Homo sapiens: one gene and its partners. The protein of the gene in region 4 purifies or fractionates together with the protein of the main gene of each other region. This does not show direct contact. Each region holds a gene or a part of one and is shown on either strand. Other genes may lie near its edges.

Region 1 (3,938 bases), on a different chromosome or scaffold from region 4:
CTGTAACACTCACTGCAAGGGTCTGCAACTTCATTCCTGAAGTCAGCGAGACCACGAGCCCACCAGGAGGAACAAACAACTCTGGATGCACCACCTTTAAGAGCTGTAACACTCACCGCGAGGTCCCTGGCTTCATTCTTGAAGTCAGCGAGACCATGAACCCACCAGAAGGAATAAATTCTGGACACAGAGGGATAGGGTGTTGTTGCTTAAGGAATACAGTTTCTGTCTGGGGTGTTGAAAAATTTTAAAAAGAGAGAATAGTGATGGTTCCACAACATTGTAAAGATAATTAATGTCACTGAATTGTATGCTTAACATGGTTAAAATGGCAACATTTTAAATATATGTTTTACCCACGTTATTTTTAGAGACAGTGAACATAAACTAAAGGTAGATTATGAGGTGAGGGTGGGTAGGTGTGGCTCATCAGAGGGGGAGGAAGAGAAAAGTCACTTATTTAGGCTGTCTTCTTAGCCAAAACTACAAAACATTTTAAACATCACCATGCAACACTGCTAGGAATTGAATTGTTGCCCCCCTTCCCCCAACTTCATATATGGAAGCCCTAACTCCCAATGTGACTACAGGTGCTTAAAGAGGTAATTAAGGTTAAATGAGGTTATAAGGATGAGGACCCAATCTGATAGGATTAGTGTCTTTCTTCTTATAAGAAGAGACACCAGTGAGCTTGCTCCCCGCTCTCCCCATATAATCCCACCAGGTGAGGACAAAAGAGAAGGTGGCTGTCAGCAAGCCAGGAAGAGCGCCCAGAGCCCTCACCAGAAGCTGACCTTGCCAGACCTTGATCAGGGACTTTTAGCCTTTAGACTGAAAAAATATATTTCTATTGTTTAAGTCCCATAGTCTATGGTATTTTGTTTTGGCAATCCCAATAGACAAATACAAACATGGAGGTATTTGCAACAGAAATTTCTCTATCAACTGTTCTCTCACAGAAAGTAACTTCCTCTGCTGATTGAAATCCTACCCATCCTTCAAACTCAAACTCAAATGCCATCTCTTCCAGGAGGCTTTCCCTGATTGCTCAGCTAAAACTAATTTTTGTGTCCTTAGGCTTCAGGGTATTTTGCCTGGAAGACTCTTAGTTTGGGTCATAGGATGGGAGTTCATCAATGGTCATTCCTGGGCTCTCATCTCATTCTATATGTTCTCTCCAAGTCAATGACTCACATCTTTCTATCTCCATTTCAGACTTTTTCTCTGAACTCCAGAACAACAGAGCTGATTCAGCACCTCTGTCTAGGTAGCCGAAAGCACATGAAGCTTAATTCAGATGCTCCTTGACTTATGATGGGGCTAGGTCCCAATGAGCCCACTGTAAGTGGAAAGTGGGCTTAATACCTGGATAAGCCCATCATAAAGTGGAAAAATCGTTAAGTGGAACCATTGTAGGTTCAGATGTGCCTCAACTTAGGATAGGGTTACCTCCCAATAAACCCATGCTAAAGTCAAGAAGTCTAAGTTGGGGACTATCTGTATGACCAAAATAGACTGTTCCTTTGGAACGATTCCACATATTCCTCCAAATTTTGGTCCATCTTTGGTGTCTTTGATTTTAGTGGACAGTACATCCATCCATCAGCACTGTTTCAAGTCAGACACTGATTAGATCCGGATAACATTCTTTTTACCCTTACCTCCCACCTCCATCCTCTCAGGAAGTACCATTGCTTTCACTTTGATCCATGGTCTCCTTTATGGTCCAAGCTACTCTCATCTCAGCCCTGGACCACCCCAACAGACTTGTCTTCCTTGTTTCCACTCTTGCCCCCTCTAATCTGTTCTCCTCAGAGCAGCAACAGCTTCATCCCCTGCCTAAAACTTATCTGCGGCACTGCAGGATCTGGCCTGATTACCTCTCCAGCCTCATCCCCCATCAGTTTAACAAATATTAATACATCATTTATTGAATGCCTCCAGCCATTGCCTATATTATTAGTCCCTCTGCCTGGAAGGCATTCCTCTCTTTACCTGGTTAGTTTCTACTCATTCTTTAAAGGTCTACTTAAATGTGGGCTCATTTAAGGCTCCACTTAAATGAGCCTTTCCAGACCTCTCCCTCTCCCCTCCCATTATGGCTAGTCACAGGTCCCACTGTGGTTAGCTCCCATGGCACCACCTAGCCTCAGTCAGAGCTTAGGCACAGCTGTCATTTAGCAGTTAACAAGGAGATTACTTCAAGGACATTCATCACTGTTTAACAGTGTGTCCTCAGTCCCTGGAAGGGTGTCCAACACACACTGCGTGCTTAATAAAAGTCTGCTGCATGAACGATTAAGAGATGGAATACCAGCAACGCTACTTCCCAGCCATTTGAGTTGTGAAAGTCACTTAATATTCTTGATCCTCAGTTTCCCAATTCTTAAAGCAGGGTTATGTAATTTTTTCTATGGAGGTAATTTCTGTAATTTGCTGGGCACTGGGTGGGCCCACAGCTCACTCTTGGATAGAAGAGCCTTCCCACTCTTTTAGCCCAGCCCTGGAAGCCATAGGTTGCAACATCATCCTGGGGAAGACTTCCTGGAGAGGTGGCGCTTCGTGGGGGTCTGAGGAAGGCCTAGGCACAGGGCACCACCTGCACGGATGCTCAGAGGCTGGGGCCCTCAGGGGCGCACGCGGCGAGGAGGCCCACCTTGCAGGCCCTGCAGGCGGAAGGTGTGGTGCTCCACCGGTAGGCCTGCCGCGCTGTAGGGCCCATAGCGCAGGATGACCACTGCGTTCTTGGGCATCGCCAGGCCTCCGCCGCCGCAGAGGCAAGGGAGAAACACACGCTGCTAAGCAACCTCTCTTCCGGCCCGGGCGCGTGGGCGTCGCTACGCGCCGGGCGGGGCCGGGGTGGCGCTAGGGGATCCTCCCGGCCCCAAGCTGCTCACGTGACCCTCAGCGCCTGGTCCGCAAATACGCGCGTTTGAGCTGGTGTGGCAAGTGTTAGTGATAAATAACAGCAGCAGCCAGGCACAGTAAGTTCGTGTCAGGCGGCGTGCGAAGCATTTTCCCTGCGTTATCTGGTTGAATCAGTTTACCATCCCTAGGAAGTATTTTATGTTTTTTGTTTACAAAACCGAGGCTCTGGGAGGGCAAGTTGCGGTCCCAAGAGTGACAGGGGTGTAGTATGGATTGGAAACCCTTGCATTTCTTCTATTTTCTTGCCTCTTTTTGATTGATTGGGAGTATTCGTTCATCATTCTTCTTCCCCCACCTTCTTCCCCCGGCCCCTTCTGTCACCAGTTAGGCTATTTGGTGGAGCCAAAACTGAATTCGTCCAATTCCCTTTTATTTGCTCAGTTCTGCTCATTGGAATTTGGACATAAAAGACATCCACCACTTCTAGGCATGGCTCCTAAAAAGTCTCCTCCACACCTGCTGTCTCCCTCTTCTTATCGGTAGCCAGATACGGGATCCCAGGGAGGACCCGAGGCTCCCGGGGAGACAGACCCAAAACGTGGGAGGAACCTGGACCACTGAGTAGCTGCGCCGAATAGAGCCCCACCCATCTGCATTAGTTGGTGACCGAAGCCAGAAGGAAACATTTATTCCATAACCACTGAGATTTTGGGGGTTGTTTATTACAGAAATTAGCCCAACCTAACAATCGCAATACCCTTGCGATTACAGCATTTCTTTACTTTCTAAATATTCAATTGTAGTTGATATTTTTACCCTCCTTTTGAACAGTAAAGGATTTTAAAAACCCTTTCCCACTAATTCTCCCAACGTATGCTACTGTGTATTTTAATTCTCTCCACGTGTACAGTATGTTCTATGATACATATTTCTTTGATGAGAATTAGTTTATACACGATTGTTAAATAGAGGAATGATATCAGCAGAATTTTGACATTATTATGGGTCATACATAATTTCCCCCAGCACTTGAGTTTCGCACCATCGGACAAGAACCACTGAATTCACCA
Region 2 (4,219 bases), on a different chromosome or scaffold from region 4:
CTGAGGTTGCAGTGAGCCGAGATTGCACCACTGCACTCTAGCCTGGCGACAGAGCGAGACTCCATCTCAAAAACAAAAACAAAAAAACAAAAACAAACAGACCCCAACTCTCAGCATATACAAAAATCAAATCAAAATGGATTAAAGACTTAAATGTAAGATCTGAAACTATACAACCACTAGAAGAAAACACTGGGCAATTGCTTCAGGACATTGGTCTGGGCAAAGATTTTTTTGAGTAAGACCTCAAAAGCACAGACAACTAAAGCAAAATAGACAAATGAGATCATATCAAGCTAAAAAGCTTCTGAGAGGAAAGAAAACAACGAGTGAAGAGACAACCTACAGAATGGGAGAAAATATCTGCAAATTCTCCACTCAACAAAGGATTAATAATCAGAATATACAAGGATCTCAAACAACTCAATAGCAAAAAATTCCCATTTAGTCCTAATAATAGTTAACATGTATCAGACCCTATGAGAGAAACACTGTTATATCCTTTACATAGATTTCCTTTTATGTTCAAAACAATCTCACGAAACAGATACTATTATTACTCCCATTTTGCAAGAAACTAAGGTTTAGAGAGGTTAAGTATCTTTCCCCAATTACATAGCTAGTGGAGCCAGGATTCAACCCAGGCAGCCTATCTTAACTCACTCTCTTAACCACTACAAAGGAGGTGGTGACAGATTGGATATTGGGGGTGGGGGTGGGGTGTGAGTAAGCAAAAAAAAGGGTTACCAGATATACTAGGCTTCTGGCTGGTATAACAGATTGTCTTGTATAACAGACAGAAGACTAGGTTTGAGGAGAAAGGGCATGAGTTCTACTTTGGACAAACTGAGGTGGCTTTGAGGAGACCAAGTGGAGGAAAAGCTTCCCAGGGGAATGGTAACTAAATATTGAAATATTAATATATAGATCTGGGGTCAGGCGCGGTAGCTCACGTCTGTAATCTCAACACTTTGGGAGGCCGGGGCAGGTGGATCACTTGAGGTCAGGAGATCGAGACCATCCTGGCTAACATGGTGAAACCCCGTCTCTACTAAAAATACAAAATTAGGGCCGGGCGCGGTGGCTCACGCCTGTAATCCCAGCACTTTGGGAGGCCGAGGCAGGTGGATCACGAGGTCAGGAGATCGAGACCATCCTGGCTAACACGGTGAAACCCCGTCTGTACTAAAAATACAAAAACAAAATTAGCCGGGTGTGGTGGCGGGAGCCTGTAGTCCCAGCTACTCGGGAGGCTGAGGCGGGAGAACGAACGGCGTGAACCAGGGAGGCGGAGCTTGCAGTGAGCGGAGATCGCGCCACTGCACTCCAACCAACGCGACAGAGCGAGACTCCATCTCAAAACAAACAAACAAAAAAACAAAATTAGCCGGGCGTGGTGGCACATGCCTGTAATCCCAGCTACTTGGGAGGCTGAGGCAGGAGAACTGCTTGAACCTGGGAGGCGGAGGTTGCAATGGGCCGAGATCCCGCCATTGCACTCCAGCCTGGGCCACAAGAGTGAAACTCCGACTCAAAGAAAAAAAAGTACATACAGATCTGGATTGGATCTCAGAAGCAAGGTCTTCTGAGCTGTAAATTCACAAGTCATCTGAATATAGATGGTAACTGAAGCCATAGTTTAGGATGAAGAATACAGAATGGAAAATGAAGGATTAGGATGAAACCTGGGACTCCTTCGAGCATTGTCCAGGGAAAGGAGAATAGTCTGAAAGGGAAACAGATGGACCAATAGGAGAAGTAGGAGGAGCTCTGTATCCCAGAAGCCAAAGGGGAAGAATGAAGGAAGAGAATGCTTCAAAAACAAGAGAGTATAACACTCTGGAATGCAGCTAAAAGGTCAGAGAAGACGAAAACTGAAAAGAATCCATTCGATTCAGTGACCATGACAAGATCTATTCGATGAAAGTGGGCTGAGAATTGAGTGGATGGTCACAGAGAGCAGTGTTTTGTTGTTTCTAATGAAATTTACCCATATTTTAAAACCTAATGGGATGGATCCAAAAGATCCTTGATGGCGATTTATTTAATTTTCCACTTTATTTTTATGCTTGGGGTCCATCCCATGTAAGAACAGAAGCCACAGCCCCCAGAACCAACAAAACTAAAGTTATTGACAATTACTTTAAGGCCCAGTGCCAAAGCTTTGGGTCGAAAGGTTTCCAACTGCCATAGGAAAGCAAAGATAAGGAGAAATCCTCTGTAGGAAGCTAGGGAAAGGAGCAGAGAGAAAGAAGCTAAGGTGAGGCCGAGAGAATTCAATCGGAATTCGAGTCCTCCCCCAAAACGCCGCCAGGTGGAAGATGCTCGGGGCCCACCAACCCCTGGAACCTGGCCACGGCCCTGGCAGGGAAAGCAGGAATTGAGGGAGCCCTCCGATGGGGCAGACCCCTTTCCCTCCAACCTACAGCTCAGAAGCTGAAGCCCTCCAACCAGAAGGACCTGGCGTGGGGCCTCCCCAACCCCCCTGCTCGTGGCCGCACCCTAGTCCCATGGCCCGCTGGGCGGGTCCACCCCGGGCCCAGCTGGAAGATGCTGCCCTGAGGCGTGGTGGCGGCGGCAGAGGCCAAGTACTCTAGCTATGGGCACTGGCCAGCTGCTGGGAGCGGAAGCGGCCGCCGAGCCCTCCTGGGCGCTGCCCGCCGCCGCCGGCTCCGGAAACCGGGAAAACCCGGCTGGCCGGCTCGCCCAGCCCTCCGGCCCCCGCCCTCCCAGCGGCAACTCACCATTTTCCTTCCGGCCGTCAGCGGCCTGTCGCCTACACTCGGGCGCCTTTAAGAATGGCACGGCGGCCGCCTCCCTTCCTGCCCCGGCGCCTGGCCCAGTCGCCCCCACCTATCAACGCGGCCTCAGCGGGCCGGCACGTGATGGCGGACGGCAAAAGGCGCGGCTCAAAATTAGACAGAATGCGATCGCCTGATTTTTTTTTTTTTTTTTTTTTTTTTTTTTTTCTTTTCCCTGCTCCCTCTAGAGGAGGACGCTCTGCCTGGCTGCAAGTGAGAAACAAACCCAAGGTGCATACTTAAAAGTCATGCCAGTTCTCCGGACCTTTTTCGCAGTCTTCAAGCTCTGAGAGCATGTTAATGGTGACATCAATGTTTTCAATGGTAAATGTGTGTACTGACCGCAGCCTACCTTCCAAATTTGATCTCCCTCAAATCTAGGCACACCTCCTTTCCTCCCACCCTCTCCAGAACCCCACTTCTGACCACGGCTGCCTTCCAGGACTTGGTTAATCAATCTCTCTCTCTCTCTCTCTCTCTTTCTCTCTCTCTCCCTCCCCCTTTCCCTCTCTCTCTTACACACATTTCTTCTCTCTCACACACACACACATTTCTTCTCTCTTCTCTCACACACACACATTTCTTCTCTCTCTCTCTCGTCTCGCTCTGTTGCCCAGGCTGGAATGCAGTAGCACGATTATAGCTCACAGCAGCCTCAAACTCCTGGGTTCAAGCAATCCTCCTACCTCAGCCTCCCCAGTAGCTGGGACTACAGCCGTGTGCCACCACACACCCGGCTAATTTTTAAATTTTTTTGTAGAGATAGAGTCTCCCTATATTGCCCAAGCTGGTCTTGAACTCCTGGCCACAAACAGTCTTCCTGTGTGCCTCCCAAAGCGCTGGGATCACAGGCGTCAGCCACCATGCCCAGCCTCTTTTCTCCATACAAGTTATTTATTGAAGTATGAATGAATGATGATTGGTGTTTCAATGAGCACTCTTATGGGCCACTGCCTAAGTAAACATCAAGAAGTCTCTGTACCAGATGCAGACTTAGTGGAACAAGTCCAGTTTTGAATGCATGAAGAAAGTGGTTTGGGAGAAGTAAAGTTTAGGCTCTAGGATTCAACAGGTACCTTCAATAAAACAAACTGCCTGGGGCAGTACCTCATTTTGTTATGACCATGGGTTCTTGGTCTCTCAATGCAAATTGACCTGAGGCCAAAAGAGTTTCTCCAGGCAAGGCTTCATTGGAGCTTATGCCGGAGCATAAGGGAGGCAGCATAAGAGAATGAGAGAATTCCCTGACTGACTCTCCTAAAAGAGCACAACAAATTAGGGGTAGTTTATGCAGGTCAGCATTATCTGTTTGCCAGGGTTGTCTTGAGTAATGGGCCACCCAATGGTCTGGTTTGCGGCAACAAGGCTGTGAATCAATTGTTCAACATTCCTCTCCAAGGTGGGACACTCTCAACCTT
Region 3 (4,092 bases), on a different chromosome or scaffold from region 4:
ACACCACTGCACTCCAGCCTGGGTGACAGGGCGAGCGAGACTCCGTCTCAAAAAAAAAAAAAAGGAAGAGAAAGAAAGAGATGAAGGAAGAGTGAGAGAACTAAGAGGGCGGGTGGCTGGAGGGGGATGGGCAGGAGGGGCGCAGGAGGGAGCAGTCAGACCTCCAGTTTGCAGGAGACTGAGCAGGCCTAGCCCAGGGCCCTGGCTGTCGTGATGGAGGAGGGGACCTCCAGGTGACCCACAAAAGAGGCTGAGTCACAGGCCTTGTTCTTAACTGAAAACATGGGCTGAGGGAGAGCAGAGAGTTGAAATGGCTGGAGGAGCAGCAGTGGGTGTTGGAGAGGCTGTGACCCCTGTTTTGGAGTTTGAGGGGTCTGGGGGATGGCCGTACAATGCAGAGGAGTGTTCTGGACAGAAGCTTAAATGTTGGGAATCACCGGCACCGGGAACCAAGAGGGTGCACCCTGCCCAGGAAAGGTTAGACTACCAGGCTGGGAGGTCCCAAGAAACCCTAGGTGTCACTTAGGGGAGAGGGTGCTGTAACTCAGGCTCACCCCCACTCAGCCCGGGCTGGCAATGGCTGGCTGGAGAGCCAGAGGGTAGGAGATGTGGGGCTCTCAGGTTTCACAGCTCTCATTTCTCCCACCCCGCCTGGCAGGGTCTAGCTAGGCTCTGGCAAAGAATCAGAACATAACACTGGGACTGGCTCCGATGAGTAACCCAATGCCAGGCTGGTTGGAGTGGGAACCTGGGCTCCCCACCCCCATGAAGCTACTCCTCACTTCTGAGCATGGCTTGCCTGCTTGCCCCTGCCCACTCCCAAGCCTTTATCCACGCTGTCCCCTCCACCTGGAATGCCTCCTCTGGGCCCCACTGGGCAAAACCCGACCTATCTTCCCAAGGCCTGCTCAAGTGCTGTATCGTTTCTGGACTTTGTCCCCCTTCCCTGCTGGCCTCCCACTGCCCACTAGTGCCCTTCCCTAGAACACACTCCACCACCTGCCTCTATCACAAGGGCCACACACTGGAGGTGAGAGTCTGTCTCTGAGTGTCTGAGACTGAGTGCCTTGGGAACAAAAAGCACACATGGCCCAGCCCAGCCCACTCCCAACTAAAGAAGTGAGCCTAGGAGTCAAGATTCGAAATCCTGTGTGAGCCCTGAATGGCTCCTCAGCCTCTGTTTACACGTCTGTAAAATGGGCTAATAATCCACCTCACTGTGATGATCAAGTGAGTTGATGCGTAGAGGGCATCAATTACTGTGCCTGGTACACAGCAGGTGCTCCATAAATGCGTCTCCCCTCTTCCTTCCCAGGGCCTCACCTGGGGAGCTGAGAAATCCATTACTGACAACTAGGGCTTCTAGGAGGAGAAGGGGCCTTTGTTTTACCTTCACCCACATCAGAGGACCCACACTTCACACCTGCTTTCCTTCACAGCCAAAGTAAGCACTGATGAAGGCAACAAGTGCCTATGGAGACCCTGTTGGTGTTCCTCCTGCCCAGTTACACAGGCCACAACACAATCCTGCCCCCTCCGCCTGGGGAGTCAGGGGAGAGGCATCAGATGTGGGACTTGAAGGGTGAAAGAGATCCTCTGGAGGGGGGAAAGGCATCCAGGCCCAGGAAATGGCATGGGCAGAGGGAGAGAGGGAGGGAGGAATGAGCCTGGTGAGCTGGAGCAACTGCAAATGGTTTTAAGGCGGCTGCCATGCAGAGGGCAGGGAAGGGACCTGGGGAGACTGAGGCTGCAGAGATAAGCTGAGCAATTGGCCAGGGCTCCGGGTAAGCCAAGGGGTTGGGCTTCATCCTGCAACCACAGCGAAGTTTTTACCTGGGTGGGACGGTATTGGGATTCCAGATCTGGAAAGCTGGCTCTGGAGGCAGGAAAACCTAGAAAGGTCTAAGGAGGTGGCTACTGAGGGCCTAAGGGAGCTGGGAGAGGTGGCCCTGGAAGGCTGCTACCGGGCTTGCGTTCTTGCTCCAGTTATCTCCATGCTGGGGTCAGAAGGAGCGAACCCCAGCCGATAAACAAGACAGTCCCAAGGGAAGACTGCATGTGGGGACTGATGCACCCCACTCCTAGACCAGACAGGACGCCAGCTCTCATTTCTGCTTTACAGAGACTCGCTCTCCTGGGCTCCTTCCTGGGGCTGGGGGGCAGGGAGCGGGGAGGGCGGTCCTCCGTCCAGCCTAGTTTACTGACTCCCTCTCCGGGCCAGATGGGCGCTGGAATGGGTGGCTGGAGAGGGGTTCGGGTCCTGCCTAGGGCGAGAGTAGCTGGAGAGAGGCGCGCCTGAGAGGTTCTTCCAACTGGAAAGAGCTCTTATTCCACCGGTGGGGAAACTGAGGCACGGCGAGGGGAAGTCACCGGCCCAAGGTCACGCGTCGAGCTGAAGGCAGAGGCAGGGTTTGAACCTGGGAGAGCTGGCTCTCGGGAGGCCTCGGCCAGCGACCGAGAAAAGGGAGGGGCGGCGGGGCGGCGGGGCCTGTGTTGGGGGCCGGGCGCGCCGAGCTCACCTGGTAGTTGTCTAGCTGCTCTTCGGTGAAGATGGTCTGCTTGTTCCCCATGGTGGCCGCCGCGCCGCCGCTCGCCCGCCCGGGCTCCGACTCCCATCAGCGGCCGCCAGACCCGGAGCCAGCGCCCCGTGCCCGCGGCCCTCGGCAGCCCCGCGGCTGGCAGCGGCCCACGGTGGCCGGACCCTTCCCGCCCCGCAGCTCGCCTGGAGGAGGCGCGCGGGGGTCTCGGAGGCGGGGACGGGAACCCGGAGCGGCAGCGACTCCGCCGCCGGCGGGAAGAGGGCGGGGCACCCGGCTCCGCGGCTGCAGCGCGCCCGGGTCCCGGCAGGAGGCGACCTGGCCCCGGGAGACGCTGCCCGGCACGAACCCTTGGCTCCCGCGGCCGGAAGTGCTGGGGGCGCGCGGGGGTCTCGGAGGCGGGGACAAAGACCCGGAGCGGCGGCGACTCCGCCCCGCAGCAGGAAGAGGTGTGAGCCCGGGTCCCGCCGTGGGAGTCCAGGTCGCACGGCGTGAGGGTGCGGGGCCTGGGAAAAAACCCTCTCGAGGCGGGCAGTGGGGCGAGTGGCGCCCCTTGACCTGGGGCGGGGGCGGCAGCGAGGACTGTGAGTGCGTGGATCTAGCTGGGGCCGGGCTCCGCCACCGTCTCGCGTCGCGACCTTGGTCAAGCCCTTACCCGGGCCCTGTCCCTCTGGGGAGAAGGAGGGGGTCAGTCAAGCTGACATCTGAGGCCCTCCCGGCCAGGCCTCGGGAAGCCCATCTGGCCTTTGGGCGCGGCCTAGGCAGGGCATCTCAGACCTTCTGTGTTCCTTAGGGAGCAGGACAGGATTTACTTGGCTTGGTTACAAACGTGAGACTTGAGAGGATTTAAAGGACTTGACTGTGTCCACAGAAGTGTGACAAAGGCCAAGACATTTTTTGGAGCTTTTAAGCAGATGCCATTGTAAGGGAAGCAGGACTTTACCTCTGCCCTCCTAGGGTCTTTGGCTGGGCTTGAGAATTAATTTGGCATAAGACAGATTAAGGGGAGAAAAACAGATTTAATACAAGTTTTACATGACGTGGAAGCCCTCATAAGGAAATGAAGACCCTGAGAACTGGCAAAATCTAAATACTTTTTTTTTTTTTTGAGATGGAGTCTCCCTCTGTCGCCCAGGCTGGAGTGCAGTAGCGCGATCTTGGCTCGCTACAACCTCCGCCTCCTGGGTTCAAGCGATTCTTCTGCCTCAGCCTCCCCTAGTAGGTGGGACTACAGGGGCATGCCACCACACCCAGCTAATTTTTTTTTGTATTTTTAGTAGAGAGAGGTTTCACCATGTTGGCTGGGCTGGTCTCGAAATCTTGACCTCAGGTGATCCACCTGCCTCAGCCTCCCGAAGTGCTAGGATTAGAGGCCTGAGTCACCACGCCCGGCCAATTATTGTATTTTTTTTGTAGAGATGGGGTTTTGCCGTGTTGCCCAGGCTGGTTTTGAATTCCCAGGCTCGAGCAATCCACCCACTTTGGCTTCTCACCCAAAGTGCTGGGATTATAGGATGTGAGCCATCATGCCCGGCCTCATCTCCTGTTTTTTAGA
Region 4 (4,279 bases):
GGAGCTTCTTGAAGACAGTGACTACTCCAGCACCATAGCCCCTGTCAGGGTCTTTCTTGTACTCCTGAGCAAATCTAGGGAACAGAAGGGGAGACAGAATTCAGATTTACAAGATGCCTCTAAGGGTTGGGAGAGAAGAAATCGAGGCTAGTTTGGAAAAAGAGAAAGCCTCGGGGGCCTAAGGAGCCTGCACCAGCAGTGCTGCTGTTTTAGCTTGGGAAGCTGTGCCAGCCTGACACAGGCTTCTGTGGAGGGTTGGGGGCGTGGACATGCACAAATGTCATTCCTCTGGTCAAGGGGTGCAATAACTTTCCCACCTGGTTTGCCTCAGCCCAGGACCATCCCCCTCACCTGTGAGCCATGTCCACCTCGTCAAAGGCCTCCTTGGCTAGCAGGGACTGCACCAGGGCCCTGGCCATGGCTGTGTCATCTGTGTAGTACAAGGCTTCTGTGGGGAGAGGAGGGAGGATGAGAGCCTCCTGCTCACCTTTGTTTTTTTTGTTGTTGTTTTTTGCTTTTTTTGGAGACAGAGTCTCGCTCTGTTGCCCAGACTGGAGTGCACTGGTGCAATCATGGCTCACTGCAGTCTTGAACTCCTGGGCTCAAGCTATCCTTCTGCCTCAGCCTCTCAAGTAGCTGGGACTATAGGCATGCATCATCACACCCAGCTACTTTTATTTTTTTGTAGAGACAGGGTCTCACTCTGTTGTCCAGACTGGTCTTGAATTCCTGGGCTCAAGCAATCCTCCTGCCTTGGCCTCCCAAAGAGCTGGGATTATAGGCCTGAGCCACTGTGCCTGGCCCTGCTCACCTTTTATTTTAGTTTATATTATTATTTTTTTGGTACAGGGTCTCACTCTGTTGCCTAAGCTGCAGTGCAGTGGTACGACCATGGCTCACTCCATCTCGACCTCCCAGGCTCAAGGAGCCTCTTGCCCCAGCCTCCCGAGTAGCTGGGACTACAGGTGCACACCACTGCGCCTGGCTTTTTTTTTTTTTTTTTTTTTTTTTTGTAGAGATGGAGTTTCATCCTGTTGCCAGGCTGGTCTCAAACTCTTGGGCTCAAGTGGACTCTCCCAAAGCGCTGGGATTACAGTTGTGGCTACGGCACCCAGCCTCTACTCATGTTTCAGAGTTACCACATCTAAAATGACCTCAAATCAGTTTCTCACTCCCATTCACTTTCGTGGGCCTGGGAAGCCTTAGGATCTCAGCAATGGGATTTTCAGCAATTCTTTATTCCAAGTCAGTCCTGCTGCTTTCTATTTTATGTATTTATTTATTATGAGCCTACATCATGGTTTGATCTTCTGATTTCTGAAAGAAAACTTCCATCCCCTTGTGGCTGCCATCCTTGCAGCTCCAGTCTTTTTGTTTTTGTTTTGTTTTTCTTTTTTATAGACAGGATCTTGCCATGTTGCCCAGGCTAGTCTCGAACTCCTGGACTTAAGCGATGATCCTTCCACCTCAGTCTCTGGAGTAGCTGGGATTATAGGTGTGCGCCACCATACCCAGATTGAAAATGATAGTTTCTGGATCCAGATCTCCTCCTACTTCACTTCTCTGGAGCACACCACCAGTGATCAGTGTCTTCATTTTGAAATTCTTTTCCTAGGTTTCGTTGATAGCCACTCCTGCTTCTCCTCCTATCAAACTGTTTCCTTCCCTAATCCCCTTCCCTCCCTCCCTCCCTCTTAATTACCGGTGTTCTCCAGGGTTCTGACCATGGCCCTTTCTTCTTACTATGCTACCTGCTCTCCAAGAAGATTCACCTCCTCTGCTTGACCTCACACCTGCTACCTGAGCCGGGATCTGAGCCCACAAGGGAAGGGAAGTTAGTTTTACAGGCGAGACAGCGCATGCAAACGCCTGGCCTAGAGGAATCATGGTGTGAGGAACCGAAGAGCAGAAAGCAAGGCCAAGGCTGGCGGAAAACGAAACTGCAGACGTGTGGGAGGGCCGGACCACGTCGGACACGTTAAGGAATGTGGCTCTGTACTAAGGGTAATGGGAAATCACAGCAGGGTTTTAGGCAGGGGAGGACGCGATTAGAGTCAGGCTTCCAAAGCACGCCTTGCGGGGTGGAGAACGGGCTGGTGGTATACTGACTCTAGAGAACCGGGAAAAAGAGGTCAAGTCGGCAAGGGTGGACAGACAGTCCCCGACTTAGGATGGTTCAACTTAAGTTTTTTTCGGCTTTCTGATAACGCTGATACGCATTCATAGGCTCCTCGACGTCCGATGGGGCTGCGTCCAGATAAAACGGTCGTCTAAGCTGAAAGCGCACTTTCCACTTCAGGTATTTTCAACTTACGATGGGTTTATCCACACCCTGCACGGTTGAGGCCCCGGTGCTGCCACGCCCCGAGCACGGGATGTTCGGGGCGAGACGTCTATAAGGCCGGAGATCGCACTGGCACTCGCTGAGCTCAAGCTGTCTGCGGGTCATCCGGCTCTGGCCCCGGTGCCCTCGGCAGCCTCATCCCCGCGCACCCCCGACCCGTCGCCCCCGGAGGCTCCGCGCCCCTTCGGCCTCCCTCCCGCACGGCCTCTGACTTGCGCCCGGCCCCGCCCACCTGTCCGCTCACTCCCGGGCGTGCCGGGGTCCGGCTCCAGACTCTGGACATGACGCAGGACTGACGTCAGGTCGACGGTGTCGTGGGCCTCGTAGAAGGAGCCCACGCAGTCCCCGAGCAGCGCGCCAGCCAGGCAGCCTCGGAAGCGCGAGAGGGAGCGGGCCGCGCCAGCCCCTCCACCTGCCGCTGCCGCCATCGCCGCTGCGGCCATCCGCGCGCAGACTGCTCGCCACTTCCGGTGCCGCCCTCACAGTTTCCCTACTTCCGTCCGCAGCGCTCCCTGGGGCCTAGAGTTTCCACTCCGCCGCCAGGCCCACAGCGCCGCCCAGCGGCCCGGAGTCGCGGCGCCGCGCACTTCCCGCCAGCCTGTGCTTTGAGTCTCGGTTTTCCGCTCCTCACCACTGGGCTAACTGGGTGGGAAGGCCACTATGGGGTCTCCGGGGGATGGGCACTGAGCCAGACCATTGGATCACTGCAGCCCACACTGCCTTCCGCAGGCGAGCAACCCTAACTCCGCACCCCCAGCCGGCCCTCCCCACCGAGGCCGGGACCACCCCCAAGCCCTCCCACCGGGCCCTTGCCCCCTGTGGGCCTCCCTTAAGCATCAGGAGGGCGGACCAGGGGCCAACTGGGACACAGCCAGGTAGAGGCCGCGCTGCTGCAGCCCAGGAGTGCTGACCCAGCCCAGAGAGGGGTGCCCTGAGGGGAGGGAAAGAACTGGATTTGGTACATGGAGTTCGGAGGAATAGTGTTCCCCATCTTTGCTCCTCCATAGACAGGAGGGTGTTCAAGAACCCTCTCCCTGCTGGCTACATACAGTGGGGCAGAGAACAGCCGGCCTGAGATCCTCTGCATTTATTCCATTCATTTCTCTCCTCCCTCCTTCCATTGCCCACCCAACCCTGCCCTCCTCCTGCAGTCCTCCAAGGCTAGGCCAGCTCCAGCTGGCAGCTTTTGAGTGGACTCAGGGTGCTATTTGTGGTACGTGTGAAGGTGTCCACCTCAGGCACGAACCTCTCAGCAGGCACGGTCAGCTTGCGCCGTGTGTCCATGCACTTGGTGTCCAGCAGCATGGAGTTGGCCTTGCAGGCAATGTCAGCCTGCAGCCGGGCCAGGTGCTTGCACAGGGCGTCCAGTGCGTCCCTAGGGAAGGACATTGACAACCCCCCAGCCCCCATGAGGCTGGGAGGCCTGGGCTGCGTGCATAGCCTTCAGTCAGGAAGACAGCCCCAGGGAGCCAGCAGCCAGCAAGAGGCCCCATTTGTGGGCAGCGTCTCACTGCTCCTTCCGCCCACTCCCGAGACCTACTGTGCTTGCGCCAGCTTCTGCTTCAGGGCAGCGATGGTTGCCTCTAGCTGGTGAACCTCGTCGGTGAGGCCGTACTGTGCCTGGAGGCAGAGGGGTTGGGAGTTCCAAGTCAGCCACACTGTCCTTTACCTGAGTGCTGCCCCTTGACAGCAGTGCCCTTGCTCCATCAGGAATATGAGAAAACCTTGGCTAGGGGGCCCGTGCGCCACTGGGACACCCTCTCACCTGGTCCCGGCAGAGTTCCACGTTGGGCCGGTAGGTTCTGGCCTCTAGCCGGGTATGGGACAGCTTCAGGCTCAGGAGCTTTGTGCGCAGATCCTCCTCCAGGTGCCGGATGTCCTCCTGCAGCTCAGCGATCTCCTCCAAGGTCTGCAGGGGACAGAGTGACTGGTTTC

What was found. The genes of interacting proteins can lie anywhere in the genome.
Region 1: the proteins of ADPRS (region 4) and C10orf53 purify together in Homo sapiens (co-immunoprecipitation; one large-scale study listed by IntAct). This does not show direct contact.
Region 2: the proteins of ADPRS (region 4) and GMFB purify together in Homo sapiens (co-immunoprecipitation; one large-scale study listed by IntAct). This does not show direct contact.
Region 3: the proteins of ADPRS (region 4) and CIB2 purify together in Homo sapiens (co-immunoprecipitation; one large-scale study listed by IntAct). This does not show direct contact.

The regions. Positions count from the first base shown.
Region 1 is NC_000010.11:49,678,513-49,682,450, reverse strand, and holds the start of C10orf53 (UPF0728 protein C10orf53), read right to left. Parts: upstream 2,801-3,938; 5' UTR 2,754-2,800; coding exon 2,657-2,753; intron 1-2,656.
Region 2 is NC_000014.9:54,486,181-54,490,399, forward strand, and holds the start of GMFB (glia maturation factor beta), read right to left. Parts: upstream 2,801-4,219; 5' UTR 2,748-2,800; coding exon 2,745-2,747; intron 1-2,744. UniProt on the Homo sapiens protein: This protein causes differentiation of brain cells, stimulation of neural regeneration, and inhibition of proliferation of tumor cells.
Region 3 is NC_000015.10:78,128,646-78,132,737, forward strand, and holds the start of CIB2 (calcium and integrin-binding family member 2), read right to left. Parts: upstream 2,801-4,092; 5' UTR 2,571-2,800; coding exon 2,520-2,570; intron 1-2,519. UniProt on the Homo sapiens protein: Calcium- and integrin-binding protein that plays a role in intracellular calcium homeostasis. Acts as an auxiliary subunit of the sensory mechanoelectrical transduction (MET) channel in hair cells.
Region 4 is NC_000001.11:36,087,413-36,091,691, reverse strand, and holds the start of ADPRS (ADP-ribosylhydrolase ARH3), read right to left. Parts: upstream 2,801-4,279; 5' UTR 2,788-2,800; coding exon 2,577-2,787; intron 449-2,576; coding exon 352-448; intron 75-351; coding exon 1-74. Other genes in the region: TEKT2 (tektin-2), read right to left, coding at 3,506-3,719, 3,885-3,964, 4,110-4,253. UniProt on the Homo sapiens protein: ADP-ribosylhydrolase that preferentially hydrolyzes the scissile alpha-O-linkage attached to the anomeric C1'' position of ADP-ribose and acts on different substrates, such as proteins ADP-ribosylated on serine and threonine, free poly(ADP-ribose) and O-acetyl-ADP-D-ribose.